Linked DNA regions of Homo sapiens: all the other regions are linked to region 3. Evidence: fine-mapped expression QTL. A gene starts in region 3. Each other region holds a variant in brackets. All regions are shown on one strand. Distances are between the middles of the regions. Region 1 has its middle 94 kb from the start of UBE2E2-DT. Region 2 overlaps UBE2E2 (ubiquitin conjugating enzyme E2 E2). Region 3 holds the start of UBE2E2 (ubiquitin conjugating enzyme E2 E2). Region 4 has its middle 53 kb from the start of UBE2E2-DT. Region 5 has its middle 39 kb from the start of UBE2E2-DT. Region 6 overlaps UBE2E2 (ubiquitin conjugating enzyme E2 E2).

What was found.
Region 1: its variant is fine-mapped to the expression of UBE2E2 in sun-exposed skin (GTEx, PIP above 0.99). The same link has a PIP of 0.9 or more in unexposed skin.
Region 2: its variant is fine-mapped to the expression of UBE2E2 in monocytes after LPS (Quach 2016, PIP 0.95).
Region 4: its variant is fine-mapped to the expression of UBE2E2 in monocytes (Quach 2016, PIP 0.95).
Region 5: its variant is fine-mapped to the expression of UBE2E2 in monocytes after LPS (Quach 2016, PIP 0.95).
Region 6: its variant is fine-mapped to the expression of UBE2E2 in whole blood (INTERVAL, PIP above 0.99).

What each region holds. Positions count from the first base shown.
Region 1 is chr3:23,106,751-23,110,839 of GRCh38, reverse strand. No RefSeq gene overlaps it. Among named protein-coding and RNA genes, the nearest start is that of UBE2E2-DT, 94 kb to the left of the region's middle. The variant G/T (reference allele first, on the strand shown) is at 2,023.
Region 2 is chr3:23,247,189-23,251,277 of GRCh38, reverse strand. The region is part of intron 3 of UBE2E2 (ubiquitin conjugating enzyme E2 E2); the gene reads right to left. Among named protein-coding and RNA genes, the nearest start is that of UBE2E2, 46 kb to the right of the region's middle. The variant G/TG (reference allele first, on the strand shown) is at 2,007.
Region 3 is chr3:23,201,636-23,205,724 of GRCh38, reverse strand. It overlaps UBE2E2 (ubiquitin conjugating enzyme E2 E2), which reads right to left and starts at 2,398. Exons shown (of 6, transcript NM_152653.4): 1 at 2,261-2,398. It overlaps UBE2E2-DT (UBE2E2 divergent transcript), which reads left to right and starts at 2,732. Exons shown (of 2, transcript NR_136176.1): 1 at 2,732-2,861. RefSeq lists a silencer at 2,238-2,927 and enhancers at 3,278-3,337, 2,750-3,725.
Region 4 is chr3:23,147,841-23,151,929 of GRCh38, reverse strand. No RefSeq gene overlaps it. Among named protein-coding and RNA genes, the nearest start is that of UBE2E2-DT, 53 kb to the left of the region's middle. The variant C/A (reference allele first, on the strand shown) is at 2,323.
Region 5 is chr3:23,162,300-23,166,388 of GRCh38, reverse strand. No RefSeq gene overlaps it. Among named protein-coding and RNA genes, the nearest start is that of UBE2E2-DT, 39 kb to the left of the region's middle. RefSeq lists an enhancer at 4,051-4,089. The variant C/G (reference allele first, on the strand shown) is at 1,521.
Region 6 is chr3:23,234,994-23,239,082 of GRCh38, reverse strand. The region is part of intron 3 of UBE2E2 (ubiquitin conjugating enzyme E2 E2); the gene reads right to left. Among named protein-coding and RNA genes, the nearest start is that of UBE2E2, 34 kb to the right of the region's middle. The variant T/G (reference allele first, on the strand shown) is at 1,674.

The DNA of each region.
Region 1 (4,089 bases), 95 kb after region 3:
AACCTTTTTTTTTTTCTTTCTTTTCTTTCTTCTTTTTTTTTTTTTTTTGAGATGGAGTCTTGCTCTGTTGGCAGGCTGGGGTGCAGTGGCGCGATCTCGGCTCACTGCAACCTCTGCCTCCTGGGTTCAAGCGATTCTCGTGCCTCAGCCTCCTGAGTAGCTGAGATTACAGGCACGTGCCACCACACACAGCTAATTTTTGTATTTTTAGTAGAGATGCGATTTCATCATGTTGGGCAGGATGGTCTCGATCTCCTGACCTCATGATCCGCCCACCTCGGCCTCCCAAAGTGCTGGGATTACAGGTGTGAGCCACCACGCCTGGCCAAGACTAAACCTTTTTATCACAAAATTCATGATAAAGCTCAAAATGCAAAATTTTTGAGGTAATACTTCAAGTTTCATTAAAACCATATCAGCAGCTTTTAAAAGTGGGATGAGAGCAAAAGCAACAGACACCACAGATGTAAGCAAAAAGAGCCTGGGACACTAAGAACCAAATTCTCTTGAGCTGCTACTCTCTAGTGGCAGACCTTACATCAAATACATTGTATTCATTAATTCCACAAATATATATTGAGGACTGCTATGTGGCAGCGTACTTGAAAGACATAGTGAAGGATTTTTTAAAGAAAACATGTAGTCAAAAGTTATTTTGTCTAAGGAGGCTGCCATTTTAGAAGGGAAGCATGAAAGTGGGGGTATATATGTATGAATTTATAGTAATGGATTTAAAATATCAGGGTATTACTTAGATTACTTAACGTCCAAGTCAAATTCAAGTGTTTTTTTTTTTTTTTTTTTTAAATAGCTATGGGGATCTTGCTGTGTTGTTCAGACTGGTCTCAAACTCTTGGTCTCAAGGGAGCCTCCCACTTCAGCCTCCCAAAGTGCTGGTATTACAGGTGTGAGCCACTGTGCCCAGCCTAAATCCAAGCTTTTTGATATACATTTCTGTTTAGTAAATAGGTCTTGCTTTCGGCTCTTAACACCTTCTACTTTGTACAATCAATACTTTTAGACCTACCTATCTCTCCCTCACTAATACAGTAACTCTTTGAGGGCAAGGAATAGGCTTTTCTTTTCTTGTCTTTTTAATTGTTTTGAGACAGGGTCTCATTCTGTCACCCAGGCTGGAGTGCAGTGGTACAATCACAGCTCACTACAGCCTCGACTTCCTGGGCTCAGGTGATTCTCCCACCTCAGTCTCCCATGTAACTGGGACTACAAGCGTGCACCACCACACCCAGCTAGTTTTTTGTATTTTCTGTAGAGATGTGGTTTTGTCATGTTGCCCAGGCTGGTCTTGAACTCCTGGGCTCAAGCAATCCACCCACTTTGGCCTCCCAAAATGCTGGGATTACAAGGCGTGAGCCACCATGTCTGGCCAGGGCTATGCTTTTCATATTTTTGATCTCCATAGTGCCTAGAGAAGTACACTGCACAGATATATCATTAAGCCTATGTTAAGTGCACATAAACTAACATGATACCTGGCTCTGAAAACAAGCCCAAACAAACAAAAAAAACCTTAACACTGTTTATTGCTCCCTCTGTACAGATTTCTTAGGAAACTGAATTGAGATTAAAGAGCACTTGTCTTTATTTTTAACTCTCTAGCTGTTATTGTTTGAACATGTTGGTCCTCTCCCGGAGCAGAGCTTTTGAGATCCATAAGGTGAAATTTGTTGTTGAGTGTAAAGAACAACCACATGTCATGGAGCAAGAAGTTTAAGTGGAAGAACATCTTCACTCTAAGCTGTGCATGCTTCAGGTTGCTCCTCCCTGTTCTTTTCTCTAGGCTTTGTATGTAAAACTTGTTACAGCAGTTTGTTACACTGAGCTAGAATCAATTTACAGCAGATTTTACATATTTATTTAAAAATGGCCTGTAATGTATTTTAGAGTCAGTATTGATTCCACTTGTCTTTGTGATTGCATCTGTGACTGGTGTTTTTGTTATGTTGCAATTGCAAGGTGAAGTAATAAGTGCTGAGATTCAATCAGTGCCTACTCTTTTTA[G/T]GTCGCAATTGCTTGATAATAATTCGATTGTATCTCTGCCTGATGTTTTAATACTCCTATCTTCCAGATTGCTCTTGCTAGGGAGGTATTTACCCCAGTAGGTTGTTATACCCTAATAAGAATAAACAAAGCAGGAAACATGTGGTTGCACACACTTCTTTGTGTTTGTCTGGGCTAACACTGTGGCTTAGGCTGACTTTTACAGATAACATATGCTCTAGTTATCTACTGCTGCATAAGCACTCCCAAAATTTAGTGGCGTAAAACAACAGCCACTTTATTATATTCATGGATATTATGGGTCAGGGGTTTATACAGGGCAGAGAAAGGATTGCTTGTCTCTGCTTTATGGGATTGAGACCTCTGCTAGGAAGACTCAAACAATAGGGGTGTGGGGGGTGATGTTAATAGCTGAGCGCTAGAATCATCTAGAGGCTTCTTCAATCATGTGTCTGGTTTTTAGGCTGGGATGACCTGAAAACCAGGCTCCACTGGAACTGTCCACTGGAGTGCCTGGCATGTGGCCTCCTTCTGTGGCTTGGGCTTCCTCATAGCATGGTGGGTTAGGATAGTTGCACTTTTTATATTTGGGCTCCAAGAGTGAGTGTTCCAATGAACAAGGTGGCAGCTGCAGGATTCTTTCTGACCTAGTCTCAGAAATCATGCAACATCACTTTTGTTGCATTCTCTTGCTTGCAAGTGAGTCACTAAGGTCAGCCCAGATTCAACAAGAGGGGAATTAGACCCCACCTCTTAATAGGAATATCAAATAAATTTATTGCCATCTTTAAAATCTTTACAATCAATGTTTTATTCTTTTGTCAAAAATGTTTTCTATTTTTTTTTTTTGAGATGGAATTTCACACTTGTTGCCCAGGCTGGAGTGCAATGACACGATCTTGGCTCACTGCAACCTCCTCCTCCCGAGTTTAAGTGATTCTCCTGCCTCAGCCTCCCGAGTAGCTGGGGTTACAGGCGTGCGCCACCAAGCCTGGCTAATTTTGTATTTTTAGTAGAGACAGGGTTTCTCCATGTTGGTCAGGCTGATCTCGAACCCCCAACCTCAGGTGATCCACCCGCCTCAGCCTCCCAAAATGCTGGGATTACAGGCATGAGCCACTGTGGCCTGTTTTCTATTTTTTAATTAAAAGATTGATTGGTGAAGAGGCACATTCATTAAGCACCTATTAAAACATGCTAAGGCATGGTAAGAAATAAGGTAAAAGAAAGAAAAAACCTTTTTCTTACAAAGGATCCTGCAATTTAATCAGAAATATGGTATGCAAATATGTTAAAAAACTGAGTAACATATTTACAAAGTAAAGTATCAAACAGTGCAAATCAGTATGCTCTAGAACTTTGCTGTAATAGTTGTGGAATTTTTTATAATATGCAAATATTTTGGATCTTGTCCAAGAGAATATATCTAATATAACTACTAACAGTAGCACATGTTACCCAAGCAATTTTTGCAAAGCTAGAGTCTATGAAAGGAGGAATCAGATGAATATAGAATGTTAGGGGTGGAAGGAACTTTAGAGATTATTTATTCCAACTCTTTCAATATATAGATGAGGAAATGAAGGCCCAAAAGGTAACATCACAGACAGTCCAGGAAGGGGGAAAGAATATCAGCTTATTTTTTTGGGTGCCCTTAAGCATGGAAAACATAACTTCTTTGAGTCTCAGTTGAGAATTAAATTCTATCAGTCTGATTCTAACTGTCAGCTTAGGCTGTTATTCTTAAGTAACAAATTACCCCCATATCTCAGTGATTTACAACCAGGGTTTATTTCATGCTTATGCTACAGGCCTATAGTGGGTGAGCTGTGGCTGTCCTTGATGATCTCTTTAGGACCAGGCTGACCTAGCAGCTCCTATCTGGAACATTGCTGGCTGATGCCTGGGTAAAGAGATTATCGTGAAGCAAATACTGGCTCTTAAGGCTTCAGCTTGAAGTCACTGGCTAATCCTGACTGACATCAAAGGAGTGGAAAGTAGGATCTGCCCTGGAGGAATGGGTTCCCTGCAGGGAGGAGCAGCAAGTATTTTGAACAAGAGTACAAT
Region 2 (4,089 bases), 46 kb before region 3:
ATCTGAGAGAAGCTAACGATGCTCCCCCAGATTCCCACACAAGCTTGCACACAAGCAAGTTTACTGATCATTTCAGAAGGGTTCATCAGCTCCCTGAAGCTGATACACACACGATGAATTAAAAGCTCCTGTCACAGGCTAGGCACAGTAATCCCAGTGCTTTGGGAGACAGAGGTGGGAGGACTGAGCCCAGGAGTTTGAGACCAGCGTGGGCAACATAGCAAGACCCTGTCTTTACAAATAATCTTTTTTTAATTAGAAGCATGATGGCATGCACCTGTAGTCCCAGCTACCTGGGAGGCTGAGGCAGGAGGATCACTTGAGCCCAGGAATTCAAGGTTGCAGTGAGCTATAATGGTGCTAGTGCATGCCAGCCTGGGCGACAGAGTGCGACTCTGTCTCCAATAAATAAATACTCCTGCCACAGAGGACTGAGAAGAAATTACCCATATCAGAAGCCTAGGCTAATAAAGTTACTATAATTGAAGTGACATATAACTCCAAGCTTTCTTGCAGCCAAAGCAAACAGAAAAACTCAACAGAATATATAATTCTTAATGACTGATAGAAGGAAGTATGCCATATCATAAGGAAAGAAACTTTTCTCTGAAACTAAATTCTTGAATAATTTATCACATTAATTCTTATAAAGGGAACAGAGTATCATAAGAGACAATGCATTCAATAGTTTCATCGCAGATGCAGAAATATTCTTCATACAAATGCATCTAACAAAAATTGACAGAATATGAGGAAACAATACTAAAATATAGGACTAAATAGTTTTCTGGTGATCTAGTTTGATATGAAGTTAGAAGTGAGTTCATGCCACCATTTTTCCAATCTCATGTTCATAAAACAACCTCTAATACAAATTCAGAAAAATTTTACTGAGTATAGACCTGGTCTCAGAAACCTCAAAGCAGCCACTTCAAGGAACTGGAGTAGGCATTTGAACCTTTACAGATGAGACAATAATAATGTAAAAGAGAATTAAAGACCAGCGTAGAAGATAGGTTAATAGTACAGGAAATGGAGCCAGGTGGTTTGATCTGAATCATGGCTTATCTACTTAATGGCTGTGACTTTGGCAAGTTTCTAATTGTGACTATATTGCAGTTTCTCACCTGCAAGGTTGTGGTAACAACAGTCCTTACTCAGAGTTACTGAGAACTAGCATCCATAAAGCTCCCAGAACAGCATCTATCTACCCTCCTAGATTAAAGGGGTAAGACAGGCAAACCACTTAGATCAGTGTCTGGCATATAACTTACCACCTACTCTGCAATCATTCAAGAATATGTATTCTTAAAATTCTGTTAGGCCGGATGCGGTGGCTCACGCCTGTAGTCCCAGCACTTTGGGAGGCAGAGGCAGGCGGATCATGAGGTCAGGAGATCGAGACTATCCTAGCTAACACAGTGAAACCCCATCTCTACTAAAAATACAAAAAAATTAGCCAGGTGTGGTGGCGGGTGCCTGTAGTCCCAGCTACTTGGGAGGCTGAGGCAGGAGAATGGCATGAACCCAGAAAGCAGAGCTTGCAGTGAGCCGAGATCATGCCACTGCACTCCAGTCTGCGCGAAAGAGCAAGACTCCATCTCAAAATTTAAAAAAAAAAAAATCTGAGTTAATACACACATTTTATTTTAGCCATCAAATTAAAATAACCTGAATTTTAATCTACACATTTATTTTCAAGGTCACTGGAATCCCTAATCTTGGCTAATTTAACTACGTTTATCCTGAATCAATCTCTTTGCTTCCCAATTGTTTCCAGTGACCAAAATTTTTAGTATCTGGAAAACATACTAAGAAGCTTTTAATGAAAATTGCTTAAAGAGTTCTTTTTCTACACATATCTTACCATATATCCAGTATTTTTCAGTCATTTGTTCTCAAATGCTTTCACTTGGCTTCAGCTCTGCTGACCTTGTTAATCCTTAATTCACAAATTATGGTAAAGTCATATCTTACTCCAGAATTAGGTTCTTTTTTTTTTTTTT[G/TG]AGACAGGGTCTTGCTCTGTTGCCCAGGCTGGGGTGTGGTGGTGCAATCTCGGCTCACTGAAACTTCCGCCTCCCAGGCTCAAAGCAATCCTCCTACCTCAACCTCCCAAGTAGCTGGGACTACAGGTGTGTGCCACCATGCCCAGCTAATTTTTGTATTTTTTGGAGAGACAAGGTTTCGCCATGTTGCCCAGGCTGGTCTCAAACTCCTGGGCTCAAGCAATCCTCCCACGTCAGCCTCTCAAAGTGCTAGAATTACAGGCATGAGCCACTGCACCCGGCCAGAATAAGGTCCTAAGGTAGTTGCAAAAGGCAAAAATTGCATACTCAAAATTACCTTTGAATAGCTCTTAAATCAGTCGGTCAAGTATTCTTCAATAAGGCCAAAACAGCCAATGTTCCTCTAGCACTGCAACAGATCACTCACTGTTCATTCGGCTGAATAACAGATGAAGTAGCTGACTAAGTTTAGGAAAGACTAAAAATCACTGTCAGGGAAGGGAGCTATTCACACTATGAAATGCAATCAAGAACTAAAAGGACTTCTTCCATCTCTCACTCAGGGACACACATTCACTGATCAGAATAAAAGGAATGGCTGAATGACTCTCACTTGCACTCTTAAATTATATTTCTCAAGTATGTTCTCTCCTTTTCGTAAAGAAGACTATACATAGTTGAATTTACAGAAATTAACTAAAGTGAAATGCATGTGATCTAACGCTTCCACTAAAAATTCTAAAGGCGGTTCTAATGCCATACAAATTTAATGTTTATATTTTATTGTGCTGAATGTTCTAAATTCTCAACATTCCACTTAGCTAGCAGAACTCAGTTTTTTGTGGAACAATTTAAAAATTCCACCTGATCGCCTAACTTTTCCTTCAGTCAAGGATTATAGTAGAGAATTAAGGTGCAGTCTCAGGGAAATGACAGAGAAATTCCTCTCCTACATATGAGAAGGTGTGGAACACCAGTGAGGATGTGGGTTAATTCTGGCCATGTTGTCTAAGGAGTGTTCCCACATTCAAAAACAATCAGATGTCTGTCGTGAAGACAACAACCTGATCAAATCATCTACAGAAATGTGTGAAGCTGAAGTACATCAGGACACTAATTGCTTTTTTGATGGAAGAAAAAATGTACTCGACTACAAAAAAGATGGGCATCATGATCTACACTTTTGCAATAGTGAAAAATGAGGACGAAATTGATTAGAATTGGGAATTGGAGACAAAAATGCACTTGGCTTGGTATACGCAACGGACTTTCTAAAGCTTTATGCTAATCAGAATTTTTACATGGTAATATTATCGTTCTTTTAAACTGCAAAGTCTAAAGACTTTTATAACTCAGTCTTTAGAGTTGCTATCTGAATCAAAATGGAGAACCACAAATGAATTTGCAAATGACTTTGTACAAGCTAGTCTCTTTAATAAAAGGGGGAGGGGAGGAAGAAGGAGTAAATGCCAGAATTATTTCATAAGCAATTTCTGGGGTAGAGTGGCAGTGGAAAGTGCCTTTGCAAATGAGCCTCCAAATTCAGGCTACTGTCAAAGAAATGCCTTTCATTGTACTTTGTTGAAGAATTCTGCCTGTTTAGGTCCAAATACTCCTACTTAAAAAATAATACCTCACACCTGTAATCCCAGCACTTTGGGAGGCCAAGGCAGACAGATCACCTGAGGTTGAGAGTTTGAGACCAGCCTGACCAATATGGAGAAACCCCGTCCTACTGAAAATACAAAAATTAGCCAGGCTTGGTGGCGGGCACCTGTAATCCCAGCTACTCAGGAGGCTGAGGCAGGAGAATCGCTTGTACGCGGGAGGCAGAGGTTCTGGTGAGCCGAGATCATGCCATTGCACTCCAGCCTGGTGACAGAGCGAGACTCCGTCTCAAAAAAAAAAAAAAAATACACTCAGAGACTAAATAATATGTAACTAGGTTATTTTCTGATTCAGATATCAGATAATAAAAAATAAGACAATACAGTACCAGAACAATATGAAACCAACCTAGTTTTACATTAATATTTGAGTATTAATTAATAAATTGGAATAAAAAGAGAATAAATAAATTCTT
Region 3 (4,089 bases):
AAGGAAAAGAATTATTCCCACTTTTGAGTTAAGACATATTTCATCCAAATGTTAACCTACAAATGATAAGTCCATCTGAGGCCATTGATAACCACTATAGGAACTTTTAGAAATAAAGTTTTCACATCTCTTTTTCAAATATCAATAATAAAAGGAATTTCTCCTGGGTTTGTTTTTTGAATGCTTGATTACAGAAAAAGTATAGAAAAAAATTATTGTACCACTCAGGTGCAACGAATTTTTATGAAGAAAAAGTAGTCTATGAATCAATTTAATTAGTCGTAAGTGTAAACTTGATGTCTTGTCTCTCTGAAGTACAAATGAATAAAAATTCCTGAATTAAAATCCTTTAAACATTATCTTCTAAATTAGCATTTTAAAATTAATTCCTAAATAGCTAATCTGATCCGATTATCTCATCTACAGGGAAGATAAACTTAAATCCCAGGGTTATAAACAAACAGCTACTCTCCAATGATACTTTCAAAGATATTGAGAGAGATAAATACGCTTACTTCATAACTCAAAGTAAAATTTAATTTTTAACCATAAAATAAGTAGTCCTTCCTAAAACTATATTAAGAGGCTTACATATTGTTACTTCTTCAACACAAACTGTCTAAGCTTGTATTAGCTATGTACCCTATGTTGTAATTACAGTCCTGGAAATTAGCAACATACAGTGAATGAAACTCACATGTTCCATAAAAATGAAATGATTTGGCTTGAAATATTACTGACTACATAAAGGCAACTATAGTCATTCCATAAATCCAGCCTACTACCCAGGTAAGCCTTATAACAGTATCTACTAGTATAAAACTGCAAAACCAAGTGTTCATTTAAGCTTTTATAACAGGAAAGCGTTTAATTCTGTCATATATGTCTTGCTGTCTTCCTACTCATGTTTCTAAACTTTTCTAAAATGTAAAATAAATATATAGTATATGCACACAGCAATATCCAGCTTTAAATTTAACTGCAAAGACATTTATGCAGAAAATAACAGTGGAACACCTGATTTGGGGGTAAAAGGTGCTGCAGGGGAAAGAGAATGGGGTATGGCATTATATGAAAACACTCTATTTCAGCGTCAGCCCACATACAGAATTCCAAAGAGCCAAGGAGCATCCAAATTGCCGTAGTAAAGGCAAATATTTAGATTCACAAAGTCCAGACTGAATTATCACATATCTAGAAACATACTTTTTAAAGAAATCAGGGATTAAAAACTAAGAAGAGCGTAAAATCCTTTAGAACCGCGAGATACTTTGAGGGTAAACCCTAGCACTTCCTTTCGTACTTTTAAATAAAAATATTTTAGTAGACTCTCAAGAATACACAATACAAAACGATGAATCTTGAAAACATGCAAATGGGTCTAACAGCCACCGAGCACAGGATGATGTCTTTCTAAAGCAGCCTTAATTTCCTTAAGGGAAGATGGATTGGACATTTCTGGTTGGTCGTGGGGGAAAAAAGCCACAAGAAGCCACGCTTTATCTTCATTAGAAATGGTAAAGGGCAAAAAGATCAAAACATTATGAGAGAGATCGGAGAAAAGAGGGGGAGAAGTGGGGTGGGCGGGAAGGGGGAGAGGACAGAGGGAATCCAGTTTCAAACCAGGCCAGTGGGGGCTGCAGAGAAGAGACCAGAGAAAAATGGGCTTCGGTTCCAAACTGTGACAAGCGCCAGGCATCACAAAAGACCAATACAACACACACCCCTCACCAGGACACACACAAATATACCCCACAAGGTCTTCTCCGGGCGGGCCACCGGGGTGCGGCGGCGAAGGAGCCAAACCCGGCACTCGCCAGGAGACACACCATGTGCAGCAATTATGCAATTAGGGAAAATAGCAAAAGATCAAGCCGGGCACTTTCCACCGTGACATTTATCCTGTACTTTTGAAAAGACTTAGTTCCAGGATGCGGCTAGGAGAAGGAAAGCGCTGGGAGGGTTGAGAAGGATGGGGAACTGAGAACGGAAGGGGGTAGAAGGAGGACAGGGAGAGAAGAGGCAGAAGGGGGGGATGGGAAGAAGGGGGAGGGGTAGAAAGGGCGAGAAACGGGGGCAGGAGGCTCGCGGGAGGGGGCGTAGGGAACCGGGCACGGGGAGCGAGGAAGGAGGGAACTAGGGCACGAGCGGTGTAAGCAGAGACCTGCGACGCGGAGGGGAGGTCGGGGGAGTGAGGAGGACGTCAGCGAGAGGGAGGACGCCCGAGGAGGGGAGGCACCGGCGCGGCCCGAGCGAATACCTGAGGGGGGGGTGTCCGTGCAGGTCGCAGGCTCGAGCCGAAGCCCTGGGAGAGAGCTGCCCAGGCGCGAGGGGGAGGGAGACTGGGGAGGCCCCAGGGACGGGATGTCCCCTGCGGACCGTCTAGTCACCGAAAGCCGGACCCACGCACCACGCACCCGACCACGCCTGTCCCCGCCGCGCTCGCGCCCGCCCGGACTCACCCTCAGCGCCGCCGCTGCCGCCGCCCCCGGCCGTTCCAGCTCCGGCTCCTGAGGCTGCTGCCCGCGGCTGTCGCTGTGGCTGCCCCTGAGTCCTGGAAAGTGAAGCCACCACCTCCGGGAGCCGCCGCCGCCCGGCCGTCCGCGCGCGCACCCGCGAGTGCGCGTGCCTGCGCGCCCGCCCGGGAGAGACCGCGAGAGCGCGAGCCCCACGTCGGCCATGCGGCGCCGCGCGCCTCCCTCCTCCCCCCGCCCCTCCTCCTCCGGCGCGCGGCCGCGAGGGGGCGGGGGCGGGAGCGCGCCCGGGCGGGCTGCCCCGCCGGTCGGGAGAGGGGGTGGGGAGGCGGCGAGGAAAAGTAAAGTGACAGCTGGGTCCCGCGCGCAGACTGGGCTCTGACGGGGGTGAGCGAGGGGCGTCCCACGGGGAAGGAACGACAAGGACGGGGAGAAGTGGGGGAAACCGAGGCTGACGGGGTGGCTTGAGGGGAGGGGACGCGAGGACCTTGCCGGGCACGCGCATTAAAGGGAAACGCCGGCTGGGGGTTAGGGGTTACCCCAAGACGGTGCAGGCAGTGGGACGAGGAGGCCTTTTACCCCCATCCACCGCAGCCCTTGACTTCACGCTCGCCTCGAAGCTTTCGCAAAGTAGATACGGGGACTGACCCTGTTGACACACTAACCCAAACTCGCAGACGCGTGGGGCTCGCATGTACCCAAGACAGGAAAACTTCACGTTGGCCTGGAAACTTCTTCCAGGCTAAGCCTGAGTCTTCACCAGACACTGCAGCACGAAGGCCCTTCTGCCTTTTGGCTCGCCCTGGCCCAGAATGCGCACCAGCCGGTAGAGAGGAGCTTCGGGCCGTTTAGCCCTGGGGTATTGAAGAGAGGGGTGGGGGTACAGGGTGCACCACTGTCAGAGTGAGTGGGAAGCTGCCTTCATGCCCAGTTGAAGGATATGGGAACAGTAGCAGTGCTGTAGGTGGCATGAGGGAACATTAGGTTCCGTTGTACTCCTCATCCCAAATAACCGTTTAAAAAAAAAAAAAAAACGTACCTGCTTTGCGAACTTAGCTTCCACGAAATTTCTCCCACTCCAACCTCCAGCCTCACTTACCAACGGAATGCTGGGTCGTTGGCAACGGGGTGTCCAGGGATGCAGCAAAATTAACTTCTATCTTTGTGGAGGAAAGGATTGGAAGATCTTTCACTGCTTAATTGCTGAAATTATGGTTGCTACAGTACTTCATTTGACTGTAGATGTTTTAACTGCTATTTACTAAGTTCAAAATGGGTTTAATACAAATCAGTTACCCTTTTCATTTATTCAAGGAATATTTATTGATACCAGGCACTGTCTAGGTGGTAGATATATGACATTGAATAAAAGAAAAAAATCCTTGTCCTCAGAACTTCCCTATGTCTGAACCTTCTCTGTTGTACACTCAGCATCACATTCGTCAGCAAATTCTGTTGACTCTGTTTTCACAAATATATGGTGAAAATGTCCACTCCGTCTCACTCCCCTCCCCACTGCTAATGTCCTGGTCTAAGGCATCATCTCTCAATAATTATCTCCTACCTGATCTTTCTACCTCCCACTCTCCGCCTCCTCCCTCCCCAACACCTACAC
Region 4 (4,089 bases), 54 kb after region 3:
CCTCTGCCTATTTTTACATGTTTTTTTTTTTAACTCCCATGTGAATTTTAGGATCAATTTGTTTAGCTCAATAAAATAACTTCCTGGCATTTTACTGACCTCTCATTAAATTGATAAGTTCATTTAGAACTGGCATATTGATGTCCTAACCAAGAACAAGGGATGCCTTTGTATTTGTTCAAGACTCTTTTTGGACAACCCACTCTTAATCAAAGTGAATAATGATGTTAGGTAATCATTAATTTTTCCTGGTATGCTTTAATTTAAAATATCTGATGGAATAAATAAGACATTTAAGTGGCTGTGGGAAGGGAACATCACACTTTTGAATAACTTTTAGGTGCCATTTACTGTGCAAAGTGTTTAATTCCCAAAGAATCAAGAAATTATTGATTTTGCTTTGTGTATATTGTCGATGGGTGTACTCTTTCACAAAGTTTCTGTAACTTCTCTGAGAACAGTCAATGAATATCAAGAATGAGATTCAGACCCTGTACCGTGTGCCCTTTAAGTTCACTACCTACTAAAAACCAACACGGTGTTATTCCTCAGGTGAAAAAGAAAATTTGAAAATATACACTGTCTTCTTTGATTTTTAGAACTACTGGGAAGTCAATAAGGTATACATGGACTATTTGTAGTCTAGTTTTGCTGATAAGGAAATTGAGGCTCTAGAGAGGTTAAGTGTTCCAAGATTATGGTTAATAAGTGTCAGAGGTGATTCTAGATTATATGACCACTAACCCTGCTCTTTTCTGGGTACCACACCAAACCTTAAAAATTCAAAGGAGGCTGTGTGTGGTGTAATCTCAGCAATTTTGGAGGCTGAGGCAGGAGGTTTTCTTGAGCCCAGGAGTTCAGGACCAGCCTGGGCAACATAGTGAGGCCCCATCTCTAAAAAAAAAAAAAAAAAAAAAAAAGAAGAAGTCAAAGGAAAACAATTATACCTCTTCCTATCAATCTTGGACATGTATGATTTAAAAACTAATTCTTTGAAGTAGAACCAAAATGCATTGCACTTTTGCCCCACGGTGGGTGGAAGCCTTTCGTTATTCTTTGAATCTGTGAATCTCAACATTTCCTCTACATCGGAATCACCATGATGCTTCAATAAATACACACATGTGGGTCACATCTCCCGAGATTATTATTTAATTGGTCCATGTTGTGACCTGGTCTTCTGGATCTTAAAAATACTACCCTCAATGCTAATGTGCACCCAAGGTTGAAAGCCACCGGTCTAGATAATGTTTAAGATACCTTCAATCTTATGAAGGTATCTTATACTTCAATACTCTATAATTATACCTTCAATACTCTATAATTCTGAGATTTCTTCTTCTGTGGTAGTTAAGAGTGCAAATTCTGGAAATGACTGCTGAAGGTTGAATCCTTTTTCCTTACAACCTACCTTTACAATTTCCTTACAATTTACCTAAGTTGTATCTTAGGTAAATTACTCAATCTCTTTCATTCTCTATTTCTTCATATTTTAAAATTGATACAATTTTGCTTACTTCATAGAGTTAAATTTTTTAAAAATTAAAAATCTTATTTTTAGGGCAGTTTTAGGTTCACAGCAAAGATAAGTGGGATGCACATGCTTCCTATATATGCACTGTCCCACTGCACACACGCACACACAACCTCTCCCACTATCGATGTTCTGCACCATTTGGTACAATTGATAAACCTACATTGAAACATCACCATTGCCCAAAGTCCGTAGTTTACATTAGAGTTCACTCTTGGTGCTGTACATTCTATGGGTTTTGACAAATGTGTAGAGACATGTGTCCAACATTATAGTATCATACAGAGTAGTTTCACTACCCTAAACATTCTCTGCTCTCTGCCTATTCATCCCTCTCACTCCCAAGTATGGCAACCATTTTACTGTGTCCATACTTGCACCTTTTTCAGAATGTCATATAGTTGGAATCAAACTGTATGTAGCCCTTTCAGATTGACTTCTTTCACTTAATATACATTTAAGTTTCTTCCATGTCATTTCAAGGCTCAAAAGCCAATCTCTTTCTCAGCACTGAACAATATTCCATTGTTTGGATATACCACAGTTTATTTATCCATTCATCTTCTGAAGGACATCTTGGTTGCTTCCAAGGTTTGGTAATTATGAATAAAGCTGCTATAAGTATCTTTGTGCAGGTTTTTGTGTAGACATAAGTTTTCAATTTGCTTAGGTAAATTCCAAGGAGTATTATTGTTGGATTGTATTTAGAAAAACCTAAAGACTCTACCAGAAAACTCTTAGAACTGATAGATGAAGTTAGTAAATTTGAAGGATATAAAGTCAACATA[C/A]AAGCTGGGCATGGTGGCGTGTGCCTGTAGTCTCAGCTACTAGGGAGGCTGATGTGGGAGGATCGCTTGAACCCAGGAGTTTGAGAGCAGGCTGGGTAGCATAGCAAGACTTCTGTCTCTTAAAAAAAATACAAAAATCAGTAGCACTTCTATACACTAACAACAATCGATCTGAAAAAGAAATTAAGAATACAATCTCACTTATAGTACTCAAAAAAATTCCTAAGAGTAAACTTAACCAAAGATATGGTAATCTTATAAAGCTTTTAATATATAGCCCTGCATATAGTAAGTGCTCAATAAATGGTGGCTATTTTCTTTCTAGTCACCTGTTTTCTACTTGGTATGTAGATTTTGGAAGGAAAGAGAGTGAATTCCAAATTAGAGGGTAAAACATAGGATTTTATCTGACCGGTAATATACCTGAAGCCAATCTGCATTGTCTTAACAGAACCTTGACTTTGTAAGTGGTAAGCAATAGAAAGTATCCACTAGGAAAAAGAAGCTGCAGAGAGGGACAGCTGACTATAGAGTGAGGCCCGTTGCTCTCTTGGGTCAGAAGGCTGATGGGAAAAGTGTGGGAAGAGAAGTTACTTTGGGTGTTCGGCGGTGTGTGTGCCTGTGCACAGACATGCACACTCCTGGGAGTGTAGAATTCATGTCTGTTTAAGTGTGATTCTCTATGTGTCAGGAAAAAGCAGATCACAAGAGGGGGAATTGCAGGGAACTAAGAAAGTGAAGAAAGAAAAGTACATGAGAACAAAAGAGACATTCATTTTTTGTTTTCCCGCTTTCTTCCTCCCTTTGCCACCCACAGAAACTTGGCTCGTTTTTGTGCACTCCCATGTGCATATTGTTTCTTGGCCACTGTTGGAAGAAATGAGGAAAATACGGACTTTTAAAAGTCTGGGATAGTTCTGAAAGCACAGACCAGTGTAACCAAACTAACCTACCTAGCTACCTTCCTTCCTTCCTTCTTTCTCTCCCTTTTTTCCCTTCCTCCCTCCCTTCCTTTTCTCCCTCCCTCCCTCCCTCTCTCCCTCCCTTCCTTTTCTCCCTCCCTCCTTCCCTCTCTCCCTCCCTTCCTTCCTTTCTTTCCTTCCTTTCCTTCCATCATTGAAAGCCAAGCTCATTTAGTACTCAAAATGTTTCTTGAATTAATACATTAGACTTTGGGTTTACAGGGGCTTAAATGAAAAAAGAGGGCTTGCACCCTTGAGAAGCTCATAATTTTCCAATTTTGGGATTGGACCATTTCATTGGATTGGCACTACTATGGCTCATTGTCCTCACTTAGTCTATTACAGTGGTTCTCACACTTTAGTGTGTATCCGAATCACCTGGAGGTCTTGTTAAAGCTCAGATTTTTCCAAATGATGGTCTTAACAGAAAAAAAAAATAAAGCTCAGATTGCTGGAACCACCTCCAATTTCTGACTCAGAGGTTTGATGCAGGGCTTGATAATTTGTATTTCTAGCAAGTTCCCAGGTGATGCTTACACTGCTGGTTCCTGGATCATGCCTTGAGAACCACAGATCTATTAGGATGCTAGCCATTTTTCTTAGTCAGAAGACAGAAGCCATGTTAATTATTTGAACAGAGAGAATATAGTAGAAGGAATTTTAAACTAGGTATAAAGTTGTTAACCTGAAAGTAAATGAGCTTTAAAGTTCCATGAAGGTAGCAATTGTGGGAAACACCTACCAACTCCTAGGACTGATAGGAAAAAAAAAAAGGAAAATGCCTGGATTATTAAAACTTCAGAAA
Region 5 (4,089 bases), 39 kb after region 3:
GGAGTTGTTGCCATCTAGATGGTAGTTAAAATCTGATTGTAAACTGTAGGTCTTTCTTAGCCAGTAAGCCTCCTATTACCCTCCTGACTTTACCGAGAGAAGTTGACAGCATGACACAGTGGAGAAAATATAGGCTTTTGAGTTGGACAGATCTGGATCTGAGTCCCAGTGTTACTACCCTGCTAATCATGTGGCTCTGGGCAACTTTCTTACCTTGCTGAGTTGCAATTTACTTATCTGAAAAATTGGATGACAACACCTACTTCCTAGGGTTGTTGAGCTCATTAAATTAAAGAATGCAAAACTTTTGGTGCATTGTAGATTCTTAACAATTATTTTCTTCCCCTTCCTTTTTAAATGTAGTCTGGAGACTAACCAATGACTGTAGCTCTGGCCTTAGCTTTCTGGACCAGTGCTGCTCAAAGGGTGGTGCTTGAACTAGTAGCAATCAGCATCACCTGGGAGCTTGTTGGAAATGCAGCTTTTCAAGCCACACCATCCTACTGAATCAGAAATTCTAGGGGTGGGACCCTGAAATCTGTATTTGAACAAGCTCTCCAGGTGCTTCTGATACATACTAGAATTTGAGGACTACAGCTTTAGTGTCTTCTGATTCATAAACTTCCGCCTGACCCCTGAGCATACCTATTTCCCTGCTCATGTTTCTGCATAGCTATTTTCAGAAAAAGTTATATCAACCTCTTGGTTGAGTCTAGAATTACACTTTAACTCTTTCCACATAAAACAAAGCTATTCTAGAAGATACTCAAACTCAACATGACCCCGAAAACTCACTCTTCCCTGCCCCCCATCCCCTTCAAAGAGTAAAAACGAACTGTAAAATAACTGACTTCCTTCTCTCCTCCTAGGTTTCCCATTTTAATAATAATTAGAGAAATGTGTTCACTAAAAGCTCACTTTATGTGCCACATTACATGTATCAATGAAATGATATATAAGGTAGGACTAATGTGAATTTCCACTTACTAGATGAGGAAATTGAGGATTAAGGACATTAAATAGCTAACCCAAGGGAACAGAGATTGTGCCAATGGGGACATCAGAAGGAGACCATAAAGCTGGAGCAGAGAGAAGGGACTTGCTTTTTCCTCTTTGTTGCCTGCATCACCCTTGCAGTGCCTTTCACTCCAGCAGAGGCACTTTGTTCTAGTTGCAAAGGTAAATTCCTATTTTGCAATTTTCCCAACACTTGCAAAGCTATCTTTATTGTACTTCCCATCCCCATCCTTCAAATACCAGCATCACTGGCCGATGTGCCCTCCTCAAAGGCTTGGATTCCAGCCCCATGGGACACCACCAGACTCAGGAACAGCAACAGCAGTTGAAAACACCTACTTCTCAAGGTCTAGTCCCCAGATCTATGGGGTTCCTCCACCAAACTACTACTACTCTACTACTTCTCCTTCCTTTTTTTTTTTTTTTTTTTTTTTGAGAGGCAGGTTCTCATTTAGTCACCCAGGCTGGAGTGTAGTCATGGGATCATGGCTCACTGAAGCTTC[C/G]ACCTCCTGGGCTCAAGTGATCCTCCTGCCTCAGCCTCCCAGGTAACTTAGACTACAGGCATATGCCACCAAGCTCAGCTAATTTTTGAAAATTTTGGAGACAGCAGTTCTCACTATGTTGTCCAGGCTGTTCACAAACTCCTGGCCTCAAGTAATTCTCCTGCCTTGGCCTCCCGAAGTGCTGGGATTATAGGCATGAGCTACCACACTCGGTCCCTCTAAACTTCTATATTTTAATAATTATAGTTTCTTCCTTTTGTTCCCCCAGTCCTAGGGATGGCAGCTGCCTCCTGCTATTGCTTACTTCATGATACCATGTTTATTTATTTATTAATTAGAGACAGGGTCTTGCTTTGTCTTACAGTGTCATGATCATGGCTCACTGTGGCCTTGACCTCCTGGGCTCAAGTGATTCTTCTGCCTCGGCTTCCAAGTAACCAGGATTACAGGTGCATGCCATCATGTCCTACTAGATTTTTAATTTTTTTTCTAGAAAAGGGTCTCACTGTGTTGCCCAGGCTGGTCTCAAACTCCTGTCCTCAAATGATCCTCCCACCTCAGCTTCCCAAAGTGCTGGGATTACAGGTGTGAGCCATTGTACCCAGCCCATGGTACCTTATTGTTCCTTTTTGCCTTGTGGTTCTCTAAATATGGTTATATTATATTCTTTTTTGGCAATTAAAATAACTGGTGTGGCTTTTGTTTTTTTACTGGCCCCTGACTGATACATCTTATCACTGTGCTACTCTTCTTATTGTTAGCCAACTCTGAGACTAGAAAACTTGTAGTCTTTTTCATCTTCTTTCTTACTATTAAAATATCTCTCACCTCATCATTCATCAAACCCAGTTCATTCTCTTATGATGTCTCCCAATTTCTTTCCTCCTCTTCATTCTCATTGCCATAGTCCTGTCTGTGGTCTCCACTAACTTGTCCTTTTGCCTGTACTCTTGGATTGATTTTTTAACTTGTATTTCTGTCCTTTATCTTGCCTCATTCTAGGTAATTCTTTAACCTGGTTGCTTGGGTTGCTTAACCCAAATATAATTATAATGATTACTTTCCTATATTCTATTGAAGATCACATTCATTAACATGGCATTCAAGGTCCTCTAGAGTTTAATCCAAATCTAATTTTCTAGTCTGTTTAAAAGTTATGTTCCTTTTATGCGCCATCTTCTATGCACCACGTTGCAGATTGGATTCTATGGAAAGCAGACTCTGGGAAGAAGCGGGAGAGGGAACCAGGAGTGGGTACGATGAGATGTGAAGCTGCAGTGTGATCGCAGCAAAGTCCTCAGACAACCCATGGTGAGCTTTGAAGCATAAGTGGCCTTTCACAGCTATTCTGAACCTGGGCAGGATGGCTCACACCTGTGGGAGTTTTGGGAGACTGAGGTGGGAGGATCCCTGGAGGCCAGAAGTTTGAGGCCGGACTGGATGAGACCTCATCTCTACAAAAAAGTACAAAAAAGTTGGCTGGGTGTGGTGGCACTCACCTGTAGTCCAGCTATATGGGAAGCTGAGGCAGGATGATAGCTTGAACTTAGGAGCTGGAGGCTGTGATCTCACCACTGCACTACAGCCTGGGCAACAGAGCGAGACTCTGTCTTTAAAAAAAAAAAAAAAAGGCTGTCCAGTTCCTCTATACACACTCACAGCAACCAGTCACTGGATGGAGGCTCTTGCTGGGGAGGGACATGGTCTTGGGTGAGTAGCCCTGTGCTGCTGAGGGCAATTCCTGTGGAGGGCTGTTGTCAGGTGTGCTCCCAGTAGCTGTGGAACTAGATTGTTTAGTTCTGAAAGGGAAATCTGGGCTGCACACCACAGCATCCTCTAGAGACTCACATGACTCTGCCGTACTTGTAAAACAAGTGAGGCAACTCACTATGTCTATTGTCACATTAACTCCCCAGCCTCATATGTACTAGCCTGAGATTACACTTGTTGAAATCCAACCTGTCTTTTAAATATTATTTTGTCAAAATGGCATTATTGAAATACAGTTTACATACTGTACAGTTCACCCATTTACAGTGTATAATTCAGTGACTTTTAGTATATTCACAAATATGTGCAATCATCACCACAGTAAACTTTGGAACAGTTTCATCCCCTCAAAAGAAAACCCATACCCTGTAGGTCCCCCTTTCCCTTCAGCTCTAAGCAACCACAAATCTTTCTGTCTCTATTTCCCCATTCTGGACATTTCATATCAGAATCATATAGTAAGTGGTCTTTTGGGTCTGGCTTCTTTCATTTACCGTAATGTTTTCAAGGTCTATCCATGTTGTAGTGTTTATCAGCACTCCACTCCTTTTTATGGTCAGATAATATTTCGCTATGTGTCCGTACCACATTTGCTTATCTAAATTTGTCAGTCGACGGGTGGTTTGGACTATTTATACCTCTTGGCTATTGTGAATAACACTGCTTAACCTTTGTGTACAGGTGTTTGTATGCGCATTTGCTTTCATTTCTCTTGGGTATACACCTAGGAGTGGAATTGCTGAGTCATAAGATAAAGCTATGTTTAAATATGTGGGGAATTCCCAGATCTTTTTCCAGA
Region 6 (4,089 bases), 33 kb before region 3:
AAACAAATTTTATCTCACATAAATTAAATTTAGGAACCTGAAGGTATACATTTCAGTTACTCAACAAATTCACGCATGTTCCAAAAAGGCATGACTGGATAAATTTTCCATCTTATAGAAAACTATCTTCTTTCTCCGGCTAGAGGTTGAACATTCCTAATCTGAAAAGCTGAAATCTGAAATGCTCCAAAATCAAAAACTTTCAGCACTGACATGATGCCACAAGTGGGAAACTCCACACCTAACCCCATGTGGCAGGTCCCAGTCAGATCGCAGGCACACAATACACAGTTTATTCAGCGTCCCCATGGGAGAAATAAAACTACCTTCAGGCTATGTGTATAAGGTGTGTAAGAAACATAAATGCATTTCATGTTTAGACTTAGGCCACATCCTGAAGATCGCTCATTATGAATATGCAAATATTCCAAAATTCAAATTCTGAAATCCAAAAGGCTTTTGGTCCCAAGCATCTCAGGTAAGAGATACTCAACCTGTACTTTATTAATCCTATATACTAGCTTTTAAAAAACAGCCTTTACTGATGATGGTTTCTTAAGGGGAAAATCCCACCCAACCTAACTAGTTCAACTCTCAAAGTTTTGTTCCTTTTAACTGCTACCACAGGCATGGCCTCTCCCGAACAATGTAACATTATATAACTCTTTACATTTGCACAATGCTTTAGTGTTCTAGAAGCTTTCATATACATGATCATGTATGATCCTACAAGGCAGGTGGAGTAAATCTGGTAAAGGAATGGTACTTGCTCAATTTCACAGTGGCGGATCTTGTGACAAAACTCAGGTTTTGACACTAAGGAGATGAAAGTGCTCAGCAGGCTTTTAGTGAATAAATGAACAAGACTACTAGATGAATTATCTTACTACTATACCACACTTCCTTCTATATGCTTTCCAATATTTTTCTCTAACTATTTCAAGGGAACCAGGCTTTTTTCAACAATAAAGATTATAAACTAAAGTCAAGAGGCCATATCTCATATTTATTCCAGGTCCCCACAGTTCTGAGTACTTGTGGATGGAATGATTAAAATGTCAACCTGTGAGTCCTGAATGTATTTATGGTTGTTGAGCTGCATCATCAAAAAAGACAAACTAAAGCGGAAAACACTAAAAAAAAATTTCCCCTCAAGAGTTTGTATAAGACTTTAAAACAAAATTTAAGCCCACGTTCTGAAGAAATATTAACAAATGAATTAAGACCCTGTTAGAAATTGCATTGTAAAGCATATTTTTTGGTTTAAGTAAGGCCTTATACATTTCAAAAGCTATTATTCTCCTAAACTATTGATGGTGGCAGGCCCAGCAAAGACGTAAGACCTCTACAATTCGCCTACCTGTAAGAATGAAGCAAAAGTGCCTCATACTAAGTATAATTAATGTAAAAAAATTAAAGATTTCATTTTAAGAAAAAAATGTTTTCACCAATAAACACAACCCCAATTAATGAGTGTTGTATACATGAAAAATGAATTATTTAATTTAATAATAAAAGAGTCCATGTGATCTCCAAGTGAATTTTCTAGTCATCTTCCTTTTACTAATACCAGCCCAGCTGATGAGGCTTCTACAAACAGATGAAAGGGAAAATCTTTATTAAGAGATACTGACAACCAAGCAATCTAGGGTCACACACAAGTAACAAGATAC[T/G]TATATGTATGCTTACCATTTTAGAGAAAAATAAGACATGCAGAAGTTATCTGCCTTAGTAACTACATAAAAATATTTGTCTATTACATGAAACATATTAAGAAGATAATGAATAATACATTATATGCCTTCACCATTCCCAAAACAAATGAAGAAAAGAAATGCACGCAAGCCTTATAAACAGCAACAACAGCATCAACAACTAACAATTTTTGAGCCCTTATATGCCAGGCACTACTCTGAGTGCTTTACATGTATTAACTCATATAATCCTCACACAACCCCATGTGGTTTTACAGATGAAGGAACTGAGGCACTGAGAAGGTATGTAACTAACCAAGAGGCTATGTATACGTAGTCTAGCCAGTCTCTCCAAAAGAAACCACCGTGTAATACTGCCTCTAACTCAATGTAACAGGTCCCACGGGTGCGCTGGGAAGAGAAAATTACAGAATGGAAGCAGTATTTGAGCGAAGCCTTGAAGAGCAAATGAAAGAGAGAGACAAAGGACCATGCTGGTGCACATGTGTAGGAGAAGGTTTTCCATCTCTGCTACTACTATTTGGCCTCTGCACACACAAGACACAGGCAGAAGTCATGAAGAGATAGAGAGACAGGCGGTCCACACATCCACAGGAAATGTTTAAGAGTACACTTAGGCCAACGCTGGCTTTGAGGGTAGTCTTTCCTGTTCTCCAGATGTAACATTTCTGACAGCTTTCTCAACGGCAAAAATGAAGAAGAATATATGTCGACCACACTTAATTATGTGTTCCAGAGATGGGAGCTAGACACATGTAAACTGACATGCTACCAGCAATAACTTCTTCTCCTGTGAGAAATAATCTATAGTAAGAGAAAGGCAATAAATAATGATACACACTGAACAGCTATGTTCAGTCCACAGGCCAAAAAAAAAAAAAAAAGGACCTAAGAATCCTCAAAAGCATTTTTAAGTCCCAAAGCCTGACTGGACAACATTCAGACGAACAGAACTCTGCTTCTCTAAGGGAAAGCCTTCCCTCCTGAGCCCAATTATGGAGTCTGGTTGAGTAGGTAATATGAATAATCTTGCAAAATTACTGAAGAAATTACTCTTGAAATCTCAATGCCACTAAATAGTCTTTATTTACTTATTACTTTCCCGGTGAAGAAAGTAATTACAACTTTATTCTACTTTCGTATTCACTTGAAAATTTCATTAATTATTAATTTTAGATGTACTCACTAAGAACAGGGGACTCTCTTTTTCTCTCAACTTCATGGAAACCTCTCTCCTGGTTTTCCTCCTACCCCCTAGATGGCAAACTCCTTAGGACTCCTCTGCTAGCTGCTAGTTCACCCATTTCTGAATGTTACGAGGGCTTGGTTTTGAGTATTACTGTCTGTCTATATTCTTTCCACACACAAATTCATCATTTCCTACAGATTTAAATATTTCTTTGATGACAATTCAAATTGATATTTCCAGCTCTCCACTGAGCTCCAAACTCATGTTCAACTGCCTACTTGACATCTCCATTTGGATGTCTCAGACATTTCAGAATTAACACATCCAAAACAGAACTCTTGATCCTGTCCATCAAACCACTTATCTCCCAGAAATCTTCCCCATCTCAAAACAGGCACCACCATTTCCCCAACAGACTCAAACCCAACCCCATGATTTCTTTCTCTGTTCTAACAGTCCCCCTAACTCTGCCATTTACCCATCAGCAAATCCTGTCCACCTGCCTTCAAAAAACATACTTCAAATGACCCTCTTTCTATCTCCACTGCTACTGCCATAATCTATAACACCATCCTCTCTCACCTGATGACTGTCAGCATCTACTCTTTTACCCACCTCCAATCTAGCAACCAGACTGATCTTAATAAAAGCCAAACTCTGCTTGATTTGGCCACAACCTCATTCTGCCACCTCATCTTGTACAACAGCATTCCCCTGCCCACTCCCCACTCCCCCTCAATCCAGCCACACCAGACTTCTTCCAGCTAGCTCCCTGAACATCAGAGCTATCTGCTTTCGAGCTTCAGCACATGCAGTTTGTAATACTAATGGTCCCCCACACCTTATGTACCTAACAACTTTTTGCTCTCAATTAAGATTTCACCTCCTTAGAAAAGCTTTCTCAACCCAAAATAAAACTAGAACCCCACACTAAAACTCATCCCTGGTTTTCTTCATAGCAATTATGATGTCTGTTTACTTCCCCAGCTCATCATAAAGGCAATTTTTCTGTTTTGTTTTGTTTTTAAACAAGTTCCAGTCTGTCTTCACAGCTAAAACATAAGCTCTACAAAGGCTGGAGATGCCTTCCATCTTGTTCATAATTGCATCCCCAGTATACAGCACAGTGCTGATCACATATTGGCCCTTAGAAAATATTTAATGTTAAATGAATGTTAACCTCAA